2 separate regions of the Homo sapiens genome follow, and region 2 is linked to region 1. The links come from fine-mapping of genetic effects on gene expression. A gene starts in region 1. The other region holds a variant in brackets. All regions are shown on one strand. Distances are between the middles of the regions. Region 1 holds the start of LINC02390 (long intergenic non-protein coding RNA 2390). Region 2 overlaps CLEC2D (C-type lectin domain family 2 member D).

What was found. PIP is the estimated chance that this variant, and not a neighbour inherited with it, causes the effect.
Region 2: its variant is fine-mapped to the expression of LINC02390 in whole blood (INTERVAL, PIP 0.96).

The regions. Positions count from the first base shown.
Region 1 is chr12:9,700,746-9,705,151 of GRCh38, reverse strand. LINC02390 (long intergenic non-protein coding RNA 2390) reads right to left here and starts at 1,768. Exons shown (of 2, transcript XR_931347.3): 1 at 995-1,768. It also overlaps a transcript of CLECL1 not described here. RefSeq lists an enhancer at 2,931-2,980.
Region 2 is chr12:9,679,102-9,683,507 of GRCh38, reverse strand. CLEC2D (C-type lectin domain family 2 member D) reads right to left here. Exons shown (of 5, transcript NM_013269.6): 2 at 2,475-2,585. Among named protein-coding and RNA genes, the nearest start is that of CLEC2D, 12 kb to the right of the region's middle. The variant G/A (reference allele first, on the strand shown) is at 2,476.

The sequences.
Region 1 (4,406 bases):
GAGAAATGCAGATCAAAACCACAATGAGACACCATCCCACACCAGTCAGATGGCTATTATTAAAAAGTCAAAAAATAATAGATGTTGGCAAGGTTGTGTTGAAAAAGGAATGCTTTTACGTTGTTGGTGGGAGTGTAAATTAGGTCAACCATTGTGGAAGACAGTATGGCAATTTCTCAAAGACCTAGAGACAGCACTACTATTCGACCCAGCAATCCAATTACTGGGCGTATACCCAAAGCAATATAAATTGTTCTATAATAACTACACACGCACACATATGTTCATTGCAGCACTATTCACAATAGCAAAGACACAAAATCAACCTAAATGCCCATCAACGATAGACTGGATAAAGAAAATGTGGTACATATACACCATGGAATACTATGCAGCCATAAAAAGGAACAAGATCATGTCCTTTGCAGAGACATATATGGAACTAGATGCCATTATTCTTACCAAACTATCACAGGAATGGAAAATCAAATACCACATGTTCTCACTTGTAAGTGAGAGCTAAATGATGAGAACACATAGATACCTAGAGGGAAATAACAAAAACGGGGGCCTACCAAACAGCAGAGGGTGAAAGGAGGGAGAGAATTTAAAAAATAATGGATACTAGGCATAATACTTGAGTGATAAAATAATCTGTACAATAAATCTCCATGACATGTGTTTACCTATGTAACAAATCTACAAATCCTGCACATGTATCTCTGAACTTAAAAGTTAAAAAAAGCAAATGAACATAACTTAATCCCTATTCCTCTCTATATGAAAATTGTGAAATAACTGTGACAATGCAGCAACATTTTCACAAGAAATTGTTCAAGGCCTTGGAGCATAGAATATGTAATATTTGTGAAGAAAGTGTCATAATTATATACAGAAAATATTTATTGGAAGTTCTCCTTGTGCAATTAAAATTCTAAAGATGTAAAAATCAAGTATTTCATATTAATAAAATATTAAAGTACTATGAACTTACCATAAATTTGACTCTGATTTGGCAATTACCTAAAGAAAATACAAGATATGTCTTGTAAACTAAATGATTCATCATTGAAAATAAATGTTAACACATTGTTTAACATCACTAGTTTTCTAGCTCCTTCTTTCAACATAAAATAAGCTTTAATGTAACTTATAAATGTATTCAATTAAAGAGTAACATTAAGGTGGAAAATATCATACATATGTTCACCTTGCTACTAAAACACAATACATAGAATATGTTGAGGTCTCCACTGTAGAATACGCAAGTCAATAAAATCAGCAAATAAAATTGACAAAAGGTGACTATTTCTCATTAAAAAAAGAAAATCATTTACACTTTGTCTTAAAGTTTTAAAGCAGGATATTCCAGTTTTAAGACAAAGAAATGACAAATATGTATACATATATATATATATGCGGGCAAGTGTTCTTTTGACATTAAAAGACCTAGGACAGGCTGAGCTCAGTGGCTCACAACTATAATCCAAGCACTTTGAAAGACCAAGGCAGGTAGATTGTTTGACCCCAAAATTTTGAGACCAGCCTTGGCAACACGGTGTAACTCTGTCTCTACAAAAAATTCAAAAATTAGTCAGGTATAATGGCACATGCCTGTGGTCCCAGCTGCTTGGGAGGCTGATGTGAGAGGATCGCCAGAGTTTGGGAAGCTGAGGCTGCAGTGAGCTATGATCATGCCACTGCACTCCAGCCTGAGCAACAGAGTGAGACCTTGTCTCAATAAATAAATAAATAAATAAATAAATAAATAAATAACCTAGCACAAATTATTTTAAGAGTGTGTGTGTATGTGTGTATATATAAATATTTTTTACAAATATCCTCCAGTAGTATGAAGTTGATTAGTACAATGGAGGAACAACATTTAACAGCTGTCTTATGCCTTAAGGGACATAAATCTTGATTGTCCATTCATAGATATTGTATTTAAAGGAACAATAACTTTACTCTATTCAATTTAGTAGCAACTTCTCCAGAATGGATTGCAGTCAGAAACTGTCAGATCTCTTTTGGGTGAGAACTTTGGAACGTTAAAAATTCTGTCTCTTAAAAATGAATGATGGTCAGGTAGTTGGATGCAGTAATTAGGATTTCTGTTTATTATAAGTAGAGATAATTTTTCTGGGTTGTCTACTAGTTTAGTTATAGAACAAGTCTTCTCTTCCTCTGTGTTGATTGGAACCTTGGCAGATACACCTTCACTGATTTTACTGAAATTTACTGTTCCACTAAAGTAAGGGTAAAAAGAGAAGGAACAGAATAGAAAACTTTCAGTCTTCAGATTTAATGCTACCAACTCATTAGCAGACCCAGTTTTCAGAGTTACTAGAGGAGTAGAGATGTCTACAGATTTCTGACTAATGTCATCATTAGTTTTCTTTTTAAATTATGCTGTGGAGGAAAGTTAGTTATTTTACATAAGAGAGAAAGGGTTTGCTCTGAGAGAAGCAGCATATAACTTTCCACCTCTATATTTTAATGTACCTTTTGAGTAGGGTTAGGAGCAGTGTTGGTGATATGGGTGGGAAGCAGGGAAATACTGGGCAGAAGAGGGCTGTCCCAAGCAAGAGCCACACATCCTCAAGCCTGGGATCACAGACCAAAATGAGAACATGCATTTCCTGCTTTCCCACTCACATGTTGCTTTTTGGCCCACCCCACACCCCATCCTCTACCCATAAAAACCACAGGCCCCATCACCAGAGTGGCAGAGCAGCAGAGCAGCGGAATAGCAGAGTGACAGAGAAAGAAAGAAAAGAAGAAGCAGCCGGATGTCAGAGAGAAGCAGTTTGAGCTCAGAGGGACAGCTTGATGGTGGGACCTCGGAGAAGAGTTTGTCTGAACTCCAGGGGAATACCACCTTCCCATTCCATCCACTTTCCAGCTCCCTATCCCGCTGAGAGCCACTTCCATCCCTCAATAAAATCCTCCACATTCACTACCCTTCAATTTGTTTGCATGACCTGATTCTTCCTGGACGCTAAACAAGAACTGAGGTACCAAGAAGGCAGGTCCAAAAGGCTGTCACCCTGACCCTCCACTGAGCTGTTAAATACTTGTCATCTGTGGATAGAAAAGCTAAAAGAGCACACTGTAACACTCACCCTCTGGGGCTTGAGGGGTCATGGGAACTCCCCTAGATGTTGCCATGGGGCAGCACAGAGTTCTACTCCTGCTGGCACACAGAAGCCCTCATCCTGATCCCTACACCCACTCACCTGTGAGTTTCCCCTCCCATGAGGGGTTGAGAGCTGTGGGCTGAGTAAACAAGCCAACCCCTTTGCAACTCCTGCAAAGAGGCCAGGGAAGTACCCCATTTCATCAACACTCTTGGCAGGTGCCAATGTCCTCTCATCTTTTCTGCTTTTGCAAGAAAAAAAAGAAATTGATTTTTTATGTAGATTTGAAAACTTCTAGGTTTTAACTCCAAAATATTGTTTATATCTCCAAATTTAGCACAAATGGAGTTGTACCAGTCTCTCTCATTCTGGAGTAGGTTTTAGAAGATTAGTCAATGCACCTTCAGCCATGCTCAGTGCACTGTGTGCCTGATGCTTCATTCCTAGGTGAGACTTTGGCCTAGGTGAGTAGTCATTCCAGCTCTCAGTACATACTTTCTTTTCATTGTATTTGAAGGTTTAGGATTGAATTTGTAGTCATCTATAAAATGGATGATTCTTTATACAAGAAGTAGTTGCAATTTTATCAATCCCTTCCAAAGGAGTAAAGAGAGCATCATTACACTGTGCCTTTTGCCTTTTTTTTTTTCCTTTTCTATGTTTGGGTTGATTTAATTTTGGGTTCAATATTGATGAAACAATTAGAGTAATTTCCTTGGAACACCTTCATGATCAGTTTTACATACCTGATAATTTGATCATCTGCCAACTTCCATGACAACATCATTACTTTTGGAAACATCTCTTACATTGATCTCTGTTCTCCTAACCCCATTGTTCATATTATTTCCTGTGTTAATTGGATACTTATTTCATTTCATAATTCTCTTTATTTGAACCCAACAACTTCGAGATTCTTACACAATTGACTACCATCTCTTCGTTGTTTATATGATGTACCATAACATGTGGTTCTCCATCTGTCTTTATAGTTTCTTGTTTTACTCCTTGGAGTTTTGTGAGAAATCTCTAGCACCACTGTCATGGACTTAGGATCTTTTTTTGGAGGGGGCCATATTTATCCTATCTCTTGGCATTGCACTCAGTTCATTTTTATCTATATCTCTTCAATTCTGGATTAAGTGTCTATTCCAAATTGTAGTGATGCTATAGCTTCATTAGACATTTTTGGGCAATCAGAGATAGAGGTTTCACTTGTCAGTATGAGGCAGAGCACTGTTCATAATTTCAGCAACACTTTGGGAA
Region 2 (4,406 bases), 22 kb after region 1:
ACCTAAAACCATAAAAACCTGAGAACAAAACCTAGGCAATACCATTCAGGACACAGGCATGGGCAAAGGTTTTATGATTAAAACACCAAAAGCAATTGCAACAAAAGCAAAAATTGACAAGCGGGATCTAATTTAACTAAAGAGCTTCTGCACAAAAAAAAAAAAAAAAAAACAAACACAAAAAACAAACTATCATCAGAGTGAACAGGCAACCTACAGAATGGGAGACAAATTTTGCAATCTATCCGTTTGACAAACAGCTAATATCTAGAATCTACAAGGAACTTAAAAAAATTTACAAGAATAAAACAAAAAACCCTATCAAAAAATGGGCAAAAGATATGAACAGACACTTCACAAAAGAAGACATTTATGTGGCCAACAAATATATGATAAAAAGCTCATCATAACTGATCATTAGAGAAATTCAAATCAAAACAACAATGAGATACCATCTCATGCCAGTTACAATGACAATCATTAAAAAGTCAGGAAACAACAGACGCTGAAGAGGATGTAGAGAAATAGGAACACTTTTACACTGTTGGTGGGAGTGTAAATTAGTTCAACCATTTTGGAAAATACAGTGTGGCAATTCCTCAAGGATCTATAACCAGAAATACTGGGTCTATACCCAAAGGATTATAAATCATTCTACTATAAAGACACATGCACTCGTATGTTTATTGTGGCACTATTCACAATAGCAAAGACTTGGAACCAACCCAAATGCTCATCAATGATAGACTGGATAAAGAAAATGTGGCACATATACACCATGGAATACTATACAGCCATAAAGAAGAATGAGTTCATATTCTTTGCAGGGAGACAAATGAAACTGGAAACCATCATTCTCATCAAACTAACACAGGAACAGAAAACCAAATACTGCAGGTTCTCACTCATATGTGGGAGCTGAACAATGAGAACACATGGATGCAGGGAGCGGAACATCACACACTGAGGCGTGTTGAGGGTTGGGGGGCAACGGGAGGGATAGCATTAGGAGAAATACCTAATATAGATGATGGGTTGATAGGTGCATCAAACCACCATGGCACGTGTATACCTATGTAACGAACCTGCGGGTTCTGCACATTTATCCCAGAACTTAAAGTATAATTTAAAAAAAAAGTTAGGGACCAGAGCTATAACTACAAAGCTCTATTAGGAATTTTTATAACTAAAGCCAATCTAAATAACTCGATTTAAATGGGGAAATACCACACTTGAATAGTTAACTAACAATCTAAATGTTAAATAAAACATAAAAATGATATAAAGTAATACATAATAACACATTTAAAAAAAGAAAGAAAGAAAATGACCAGATTAGAAGATGGCTCCAGCTATTGGCTCCACACAAGAAATCATTTCCAAAGTGCTAGCTGAAAGGAAGAGAAACACATAATGGATAATAAAGGAAAACAGTCATAAGTGTCAATTTCATATGCTTACTGTAAAAAAAAGAGCTATAAATTTAAATTATATTTCAGAATACATTCCCTTGATTAATACTGAGGTACTTACAGAGTACAGAAATTGTCTCTTTCCAATTTTTTCTTTCTTAAATAGTTACAATTAGTTGACTTAAATCTCTGAAATAAAAAAATTATTTTTGCTTCATAAATGTATAAAGTATATTATCTGTGGTTTCAAAATGCCAAAAGATAATAAGCAAAAGATTTGCAAATGAATAGAAATTATTTAGAGTGTTATATGGAGTGCTCCAAGTATTGCTGACTCTTAAGTTACGTAAGCAGTATTTGAAGGGTCTCTCTGAAATTACTTCAGAATGTAGTAACAGGGGGTAGATTTTAGGTTGATATCCAGATTGGCATGAGGTTTGGGGGAAGTGCTTTTGTAGTTTTCTATGTCTTCGCTTGGTCTATATTAGATGCACTGCAAGCATGTTTTGAAGTACAAGATAATTTTTATAGCTAATTGCTTTTAGGGTACAATCACTAAACGGAGTTTGTTTTCTAGGAAGATGGGCTACATATGCTAAAAAAAACAAGGGCCAGAACATGCTCAAATAGCTAGGAAGAAAGAACAGGCTGCCTGTGATGTTATACAGCCACTTAGTAGTTTTGTGTACTTTAAACCATCTGTTTTGCTATTTTTCATGAAACAAGGTTGTTGTGGAGGTAAAATTAACCATGTTCCTAGATCGGACAAGAGACTATTTTTCAGTTTACTATTTTTTTTAATTTTTGCATCAATATTCTTAAGGAATAGTGGTCTGTCTTCTACCTTCTGAAGACTCTGATCATCTCACTAAACTTGGAATAATGTGAACCCTATTTACATAATTAAAATTTTTGGTGCCACTTAAAAAGTTATTGGAGTGTAACTCAGTTAGTGAGACAATATATTAAAAGCTGTAAAGAATAACAAAATTATTCAGATTCTTCCTCTTCTTTTTACAAGTATAATTCTCTCTAGATGAATAAAGATTACAGTTCACTTACC[G/A]CTTAAAGCAGCAACCATTCCACACACTATGATTGTCAGAAACATGATTAAGAAAAATAAGCGCCAAATTAAGGTAGCTTTAATAGAATGCTCTTTTGAATGCAGACAACCTGGAAAAAATTATTGAAAAACATTTTAACAATTAAATACAGACATAATACTGCCAGAAACATTAAGCATCAAAATGTTATTTTTATTTAATTCCTTCGCTTTTCACTAGAGGATGCAAATGACCTGTCATCTTATGAACTTACTATTCTATCTCCAGAATTTAATCATTTTCCAAAGTTAAAAGAATTGATTTTAACTTTCCAGCTACCATATTCAAGTTACCCTTTCAATTGGAGAGATTCATGTCAACTAAACCACAGGAATGAAATCAACAAAATCCAAGTAACTGGAAATTCAACATAGCAAATTATTCTGATTCCTGTCTAAAAATGTAAAGAAATATTTTTAAATGATATTAAGAGGAAATCTATCGATTAAAATAGACTTAAAAGGCATTGTTTTGGAGGAAAAAAGGCAAAACTGGAGTGATAAAGTGATTATTGTAGAGGTCAAATTAGTGTTATTCTTGGAAGGATAGGAGAGTGAATAGTTAAGAATACATGGAGGGCCTCTGAGCCACATAACAAGGATCTTTCTTAGACAATGTTAGCAGTTGTATTAGTCCATCCTCACTGCTATGAAGAACTGCCCAAGACTGGATAATTTAAAAAGGAAAGAAGTTTAACTGACTCACAATTCTACATGGCTGGGGAGGCCTCAGGAAACTTACAATAATGGTGGAAGAGGAAGCAAACGTGTTCTTCTTCACATGGCAGCAGGAGACAGAAGTGCCTAACAAAGGGGTAAAAGCCCCTTATAAAACCATCAGATATCATGAAAACTCACTCGCTATCACAAGAACAGCACGAGGGTAACCAACTCCATGATTCAGTTATCTCCCACTGGGTCCCTCCCATGACAAGTGGGGATTATGAGAACTACAATTCAAGATGAGATTTGGGTAAAGACACAGCTAGGCCATATCAGGAGTCAACAAAGGTGTTTATCTTATAATAATTAATCAAGCTACATATTTGTATTGTATAATTTCCTGTAGTTGTGTTATATTTCAAAATGTCTTAGGTTATCTAAAACCTCTTATGAAGTTCATTATTGGAACCCTGTTCTGACACAATCTCTTGCATACAATTCACACCTCTAGTTAATTTATCTAGGTTTGTCCTTAGCTAAATAGGCATATTTTTCTCCAACATTCCCCCCAACACTAGAGAGATCAGCAAGCTTTACATTGATGTTTCCCAAGATATTTGTCTTAATCAATAGATTTTAGTTTTTATCAGTTTAAGTTGACAGAAATACTGAATTAAAAATATAGAGTTCACATATGCCCCTGTACCCCCTTTATCAAAGATTTAAGAAATCATAAGAGAATCCAGAGGAAAATAAATTCTACATGTAGAGAAACAAAGATAAAAATGACATTTACATTCTTCTCAAAAACCATGCAAGCAAGAAGACAGTGGAAACAAATATTTAAAGTATTAAGAGAAAAAACCTTATCAACTTAGAATTCTTTAGCCAAAAAAATTCTTCAAAGTGAATGAGAAACAACCACTATTTTGGAGAAACATTGAGATAACTTGTTGCCAGTAGACTTGTCTTATATCAAAAAACAAAAAAGTTAAATGCAATTATTTTAAAAGGAAAGAGAATTATACAGGTTAGAAACCTAAATTATATGAAAAAGGAACAATATAAAAAATAAGTGAAGGTAAAATAAAACTATTTTTCTTATTCTTAATTGATCTAACAAATGGCAGTTTGTTCAAAATAACAATAGTAGCAATATATTTAATTATGTGTGCTTATGTATACATCTTTTATATATATTTATATGCTTATGTATTCTTACATGTAAA